Homo sapiens: one gene and its partner. The protein of the gene in region 1 interacts with the protein of each later gene in a biochemical or structural test. Each region holds a gene or a part of one and is shown on either strand. Other genes may lie near its edges. The genes, in order: NEK6 and ERCC6L2.

What was found.
Region 2: the proteins of NEK6 (region 1) and ERCC6L2 form a complex in vitro, tested with the Homo sapiens proteins (one study listed by BioGRID).

The regions. Positions count from the first base shown.
Region 1 is NC_000009.12:124,327,218-124,331,036, reverse strand, and holds part of NEK6 (serine/threonine-protein kinase Nek6), read right to left. Parts: intron 3,700-3,819; coding exon 3,592-3,699; intron 1-3,591. UniProt on the Homo sapiens protein: Protein kinase which plays an important role in mitotic cell cycle progression. Required for chromosome segregation at metaphase-anaphase transition, robust mitotic spindle formation and cytokinesis.
Region 2 is NC_000009.12:95,881,943-95,885,761, forward strand, and holds part of ERCC6L2 (DNA excision repair protein ERCC-6-like 2), read left to right. Parts: intron 1-3,819. UniProt on the Homo sapiens protein: Promotes double-strand break (DSB) end-joining and facilitates programmed recombination by controlling how DNA ends are joined in a spatially oriented manner during repair.

The DNA of each region.
Region 1 (3,819 bases):
ACTGCCTCGGCTTCCCAAAGTGCTGAGATCACAGGCGGGAGCCACCACGCCTGGCCAACGAAAAAACAAAATGTTTTTTGAACTCTTTTTTCTCCGTCTTTAACTCATCTTTTCAGTGAGTTCAGTGGCTACAGAGTAACGAAGTGAGGGCGGCTCTGGGAGGGGTGGAGCCACCCTGGGCTCCCTGGGGCTCTGTATAGAATCACAGAGCCCCACGCCTGCCCTGCCTGCCCACAGTGGGCCCCAAGAGGCAGTCCCACCTGTCCCCTCACCATGCCACCTGGCATGGACTGTGTCTGTCCCCTCGAAAGCTGCATAATCGCATATCCCCAGCACACAGCCCAGGGCCAGGCAGTTTGCTCAAGGAAGAAGAAGGAAGGGGTTTGCGCCTCAGCGCCAGGCTAAGCCCTGGGAGACCCAGCAGGGCCGTGACCTCGAGTACCTGATGGGGTCACCCCCAACTAGACTTGCTCTCCCAGCCCCCAAGAGGCAGCACGGGCCCTGCATGGGCCTGGGTGTGACCAGCCGCCCTTCCTGCCCTGTCACCCGTGGCTGCCTGTCACCGAGACTGTCCTGTCACTACAGCCGAGGAGCCAGGCCTGCCCGCCCGCTCTCCCAGCCCCGTGATTTGTCTTGCAGCTGCTGCCGTTGCTCGGAGCGAGACACTTGCTTGTAGCTTGTGAGCTGTGTATAGGCAAATCTTTCATTTTTCCTGCATTACGCCGGCGTGTACTGTCACTTAATTTTTATGTATGCAATCCTTCCTGACAAATATGATCTGCTGCCTGGTAATTCGTCTGACGCTCATTCTGTTCCGCGCTCTAATTACGGCTCCTATTTCTGACACCGAGGCAGCCACTCTGCCACCGCTGGGTACCGCACCTGTCAGCCCGACCATGGCACTGACTAATGCCCTTTCATGCCAGCCTCGTGTTAGCAAATACAGAGGCGGGGAGGGGGCCCAGGGAGGGGGGAAGTGGGAGGAGACCAGATTTGCATAAGCCCAGCTCTTGGGTCAGCAGCCTTAGGAGATGAGGTGGTTGCTGGGGCAACGTGGCTGCCACCACAGCATCCCCACATAGTAGGTGCACATGAGATGCGGCAGATGCATAATTCATCCCCACGCACAGGGCGTGAAGTGTCCCTGGCCCCTGTGCCCCTCCTGAGTCACGATGCAATGGTAATTAGTTCAATCTCTTGCCCAACCAAACGTGTGTGCAAGACTTAGCTGTTTGCAGAACCTCTTGGTGGAAGGGGTCTTTCCCCTGGGTCTTGGAGATACAGGTCCTGGGCTTTAGCTTGGCACTGTCACCATTCTAGAACCTGGTGGGTGCAGGCCCTTGGTTCTGGGAGCTTGTCCTGCTGGCAGGGACTTGCTCAGCTCCGTGCAGGCCTCAGCTCATTGGGCATCTCTCCTGGATGCCGGGCACAGAGCCCGGAGTGGGGACAGGCCCCAGGAGGGCTCCTTCCACCCATCATGTGGCCTGGTCGGCGCTCGGAGGGCTTGGGAAGAGCCCGGCTTATGAGGGCGGCCTTCTCCCAAGTTCCAATTCCTTCTCATTAATATAATAAGTGCACCAGTCCAAGTCAATAAAATCATACTGTCGGATGAGACGCATCTCTGCCCATTCCTAATGATGCGATCCTAACCCTCTCTGACGGAGCGCCACAGTCTTTTTTCTGCAGTGGGACAGAGAAAGGCTCGGTGCTGACTGACGGGGGACAGGACGCAGCGGTTCTAACTCTTCTCTTTGACAGCTTCCCTTGAATTTCCTGGTCTTTTCGAAGCCCTTCAACCACACAGGTAAACAGTCCCAAACTGACCGAAACACTTGGTTTTTCACAAGGGAAGTAAATGTTTGAGGGGACAAGGAAAGACGAGGCTTCCTTCCAGCAACGGAGAGTCAGTGGCCCGGGTCCCCAAAGGGGGACTCCAACGGTATCTGCCGAGGCCCCCGGCCCTCGTTTCCTGGAAGCAGCGTGGGTTCTGAAGGAGAGGCCTGCTGCCATGTGACCTCGGAAAAATCTCTCGAGCGCCTGGATTTCTGATTCTTCCTCTGCTAAAGGGAAGGATGGCTGGATGCTTGGGGCTGTCAAGGGCATGAGTGGAACGTCCCATACTCCCTGGGGGGTGGGTCCCTACACATCTTCCCTTTGGAGCTAAAGGAAGAGCTCCTGAGGCCTGGCCAGGTGGGGACAAGAGTTTCAAAACAACCCCCTCCCCGCCAGCCCCGCTGGCTCCATCAGCTGCTGGGAGTCGCTGGTCTCTAGGCTCGTACATTTCTCCTAAGTGTGTGTGACGCGCTGAGAGTCTCTCTGGAACCTGTATGAACAGTGACACTTTCCACAAGACACTGTGACTTCCAGAAAGTGCCTCCGCCCAGACAATGCTGCTGTCTCTCACACCCCGCTTGCCGCAGGCACTCGGGGGTCTGGGGATAGGAGACGTCCTGGCTTGAGCCATGGAGTGGGGTGGAAATGAGCTGGAATGGGGCGGTGTTCAAGGAGGCGGCGGGCAGCTCCTGGGGCCCAGCCCCCTCCTGGGGAAGCGGATGCTGGTGGGCACAGCACACAGGGGGTGGGCCTGGGGGCACCTTCCACTGCAAACACACCTCAAAGAGCCAGGAAATAGCCCTGAGAAAGCAGGGGCCCTCGCCCACTCCATGGGCCTCTGGGAAATGTTCCCACAGATGGGCGTGGTGAAACCCAGACAGCCTTGTAGTAACGCACAGGAGACCCTGCTCCTGTGTTCCACTGGTGGGGAAGCGGGGGCTTTCTTGGTTCCTTTGTTCTCACTAAATGAAAAATCCCCCATCGTACAGCATTCCAAGTTTCACATTTGGTTACATACCCAGTGTGTGGATACTGAAGCTTGCCATTGCTTCACCTGTCCCCAAAACACATCTGACCAAGTCTCTTCCGGAGTCCAGCCCTTCAGCACCCCCCGACCCATAGGGTGGTGTCCAGCCCACTGAGCTCAGAGTTCAAGGCCCTGCCCGCTTTTCATGCCACTCCTGCAAGGACCCTGGTCTGTGGCAAAGCCAAGCTCAGCCGCACACCGAGGCTCACCCACTGTTTCCTGGAACGCTGCTCCCTCCCCTTCCCTGTCCCAACAGCATCTGGTCTCCCTTTATGGTCCAGCTACAATGTCACCTCCTCCCTGGCAGGCACCTGGTCCCCACAGCCTCAAAACCGCCAGTTTAAAAGCCAGAAACTAGGAACAGTGCAAATGTCCACCCCCTAGGAGGGATGGACCAAGGGTGCTGCCCGTGAACGGGACACTCACAGCAGTGGGAAGATGACCGCCCTGTGCCACAGACACGCCCCCTGCTCCAAGCAACCGGCTCAGTCAGCTTCTCCCGCAAGGGCTGGGAGGTGATCAGGGGGTGTGGGAAGCCCCAGCTGGGCTCCTCTGGCCACAGCTGATTCCCTTCTGGGTCACTATTCTGAACAGATGAGAAAACCCTGGGGCTTAAAAAAGGCATCTTCCTGCACTAACTGACCAAACACACGTGGGGAGAATGTTTGCGTCTCCCTGCATGGTCACCAGGACCGCTGGGGGCTGCTGGGGCACAGACAGGTCCCCCTTACCTAGGGAGTGGGCTGCGGTGGTCTCAGAGCTGAAGAAGCGGCCCAGACCAAGGTCACCGAGCTTCACGACGCCCGTGGCTGTGATGAACACGTTGGCAGGCTTGATGTCTGCAGGGCGAGGAGAAGGAGATTGGTGTGGGGTAGGAGGCTTGGGGTAGGTGGGGCAGGACGAGAGGAAGGGGGAGGAAGGTGAGGCCTAGCCCAGGTCCTGCTCCCTCAGGGCAAGGC
Region 2 (3,819 bases), about 28 Mb from region 1:
AGCCTGGTCCTGTAGCTTTGCCTCTCACAGGGCTGCAGTCATCTCAAGGTGACTGGGGAAGATTCACTTCCTAGCCCACCTGTTTGTTGGCAGGATTCAGTTCCTTGTGGGTTCTTGGCCTCAGTTTCTTGTGAGCTGTTGGCTGGAGGCCTCCTTTGCTTCCTTGACACATGGACCTCTTCATGGGGCATCTCACACAAGGTAGCTTGCTTCATAAAAGGAGAGCAAGTAGGAGGGCAAGAGACAGCACTAGTAAAACAGAAGTCATAGTCTTTGGTGATGTAATAACACAAGAGACATCCCTTCACTTTTGTCACATTCTTCTCATTAGAAGCAAGTTGCTAAGTCCAGCCAGAACTCAAGGGAAGGAGATTAAACAGGACTGGGAATATGAAGAGGTGGGTATTATTGGGAGTCCTGTCAGAAGCTGCCTGCTACAGGGTCTTTAGCTTTCCTTAGATTTTCAAAGAGGTTTGTGATCCAAGAAGAATAGAGTTTTGAATCTAGATTTTATACTAAACGATCACTTTAGATTTTCAGGAGTGTGTGCCTAGTTTGTGATTAAGTTATTCTGCTTCCTTTCTTATAATTGAGTTTAACTTATTTTCTTCTTCATATTACCTCCATTAGTTATTGGAACTCAAAGGTTTAAGTGGAAAACTAAATTTAACATTTATAAATAGCCAAATTTCAGACACCAATGATGGAATAAGGAAAAAGAAAAGAAAAAAAAAATAGCCAAATAATGCTACTGTGTGTAAAGGTCTGGTGTGAAAAACTAGGCTAAAATAAAGTCTTTTAATAATCATATTACCATTAACCATACTCTATGTTCCTTCAAGCCTAGGCAGTGCAGATAGTTTAGACATGCACACTGGACGTGCTAAATGATTGTTTGTGGAATAAATGAATTTACCTTCTTCGTTTATTCCACAAACTATCATTTAGCATGCCGGCCTGTAGGTGGAGGATAGACAGCAAGAATAAAGAAAGGAGCCTTCAAGAAATTACCTCTGAAACTGACCCAACAGTCCCACAGACAGTTTTGTTTGTTTGTTTGCTTGTTTTTGGATAAACATAGAAATTGACCCTTCTGGTCCTAAAGCTTTAAACTTGTATTTGTTTTATCTGAGTTCCTTCCTCAGGAAAGGACCCCCAGGCCTCTCAAAAAGTATCAAAGAACTGAAACTCACCAGATCGTAGAATTCAGACAGTGAGACACCAGGCCTCTCATTCATCAGATTACTTCCTTAGCCCTCCCAACTTCCTGTTTTCCCATACATTGTTACATTTCTTCTCTGCTGTAAAAACTCCTAATTTTAATCAGGGAGATGGATTTGAGACTGATCCTTGGCTACAGTGCCTGATTAAAGCATTTTTCCTTGGCAATACGTGTTGTCTCAGTGATTGGCTGGCTGTATGGTGAGCAGCAGGTCTTAGACCGAACCCGTGGTGTTTCAGTAACGCCATCTGTGACCAAGATTACAGATGAGTACTAGAGGAAAATTAATAAATTAATTAAAGCCCTGCTGTAACTGTTTTCGCATATACTTCTACTGTTTTTGCCTGTGGTAGAATGTTTGTTACCACAATTCTTTGATTAGCCAGTGCATGTTCAACTTCAAAATAAACATGAGGCTGGGTTTGGTGGTTCACACCTGTAATCCCAGCACTTTGGGAGGCCAAGGCGGGCGGATCACGAGGTCAAGAGATCAAGACCATCCTGGCCAACATGGTGAAACCCCATCTCTACAAAAATACAAAAATTAGCTGGGCATGGTGGCCCACGCCTGTAGTCCCAGCTACTTGGGAAGCCAAGGCAGGAGAATCTCTTGAACCTGGGAGGCAGAGGTTGCAGTAAGTCGAGATTGTGCCACTGCACTCCAGTCTGGCAACAGAGTGAGACTCTGTCTCACATACAAAAAAAGAAGAAACATGAGGGTACTACATACAAAAAGTGATCTGTTTGGGAACCACCATCCTGCAGCTTAAATACAATTCGAATTCAAATTCTTGCGCACATTTTAGTCTCAAATTTGAAGGCTGTCTTTCATCTCTGAGGCCCATGTTACAAAGAAATTTACTTTATTTTACAGTTCATAGGATTATTTTTAAAGGAGCTGATTTTACTGCAGAATTTTCTATTCCTGATACACTGTAATCATTGAAGGACTTGGAGATGTTCTGGTACATGCTGTTAGTGTGCTGTGCAAGTCTTTGAGGGAGTACCGTCTGAAGATTAGGAAATGGTTTCTGCACTAATTTTGATACTCAGATGGATTTGTCTGATGCTTGGGGACCTAGTTCTCTGGTTACTGTTGTTGTAACTCAGGGAATAATTTCTACATAGATAGGTGGTTTGAAAGACCCATTTAAGGTAGAGCTTCTATAGATAGATAAAGCTTCTATAGATATGACTAAGCCAGTTGAAGAAATGTGAATGATTACTGTGTTAACTAAAATTTCAGAATGTAGTAAAATTAATTGATAATGAAAATAGACCATTGACATTTACTGTTTGAGCTATAGTTTTATCTTCTTTTCTTCTTTTTTTTTTTTCCTGTTTCTTGATTTCATCCCTTTAGTTTCCCCCTTTTTATATTCTAATTTGGCCATGATATGAAACTGAAGTCTTTTTAAAGCTTGTTTTACATACCAAATAAAGTTTCCTTCCCTCATTTCAAATTTAAAAGTAGGTGAATTTAATATTTTACACTCTACAGGGGATGAGAATTGAAAAATGTCCATTTGTTCTAGTGACATAGAAATCATTGGTATGCTGAGCAAGAGCCATTTTGCTGGAGCTTTCAGACACAAGCCATAATGGAGTAGGTGAAGACGTGGACATAGAAAGAACGTATATTTACCTCTTTAAGAAATATGGCTTCGAAAGGGAATAAAAGTGACCTAGTAGTAGGTGAAGAGAGAGACGAGAATTTGAGGGGGTTTCTTTTTTGTTTGTTTTGTATTGTTTGGGGGTAGGAAAGACTTGAGTATTTTTAAGGTGAATTGGAAGGACAGATCTGGTGAAGAGGGCACAGATAAATATGCAACATACATAATGATATGCCCACATATACATGTACTTCTGTAAACACACACACAAACATACATATGCAAAAAATGGAGTCACATAATAACTACTATCTTATAAGCAGGTTGCAGATTTTTTTTTGTCAAAGATTATGAACTAATTTTTCCCGATACCTTCTGACATTTTTCTAAAACATAGAAGAGTTAAAAGAATGGTACAATGAAAAGCCATATTCTCACCACTTAGATTCTGTTAATATTTCATTATACATGGTTTTGTAATATCCATCCATCTTTTGTTGCATTTTAAAATAGCAGACATTAATACATTTTATCCCACATACACATATCCAAGAAAAGATCATCACAGCCAAGACGATGAACATGTCTATCACTCCTAGATTTCCTCATGTCCATTGTGCCCTTGATATGTTCAACACCATGCAGTTCATCACCTACTATTTTTGGTTTTAGTGGGACTGAAAAATTAAAGATACTTGAGGAAATTTTAATACAAAATCCAAGATTTTTATGACTATCTCCCAATATTTCACAGAATTTTCACATCTAATTCAACAGGTAACTTGAAAATGAATCCCTTTTGTACATTTACGTGATAATTAGCTAGTTTAAGTACAATAAACAATTTCACTGGAGTATACAGGTTTGGGAACCTGACCTTTGGTAATCAGACAACTCAGTGATAGGAAAAGAGGTGAGTGGGTGCTTACCATGGAGTAGTGGTTCTCTAAAGTGGATATTTGGGTCAGCAGCATTAGTGTCACC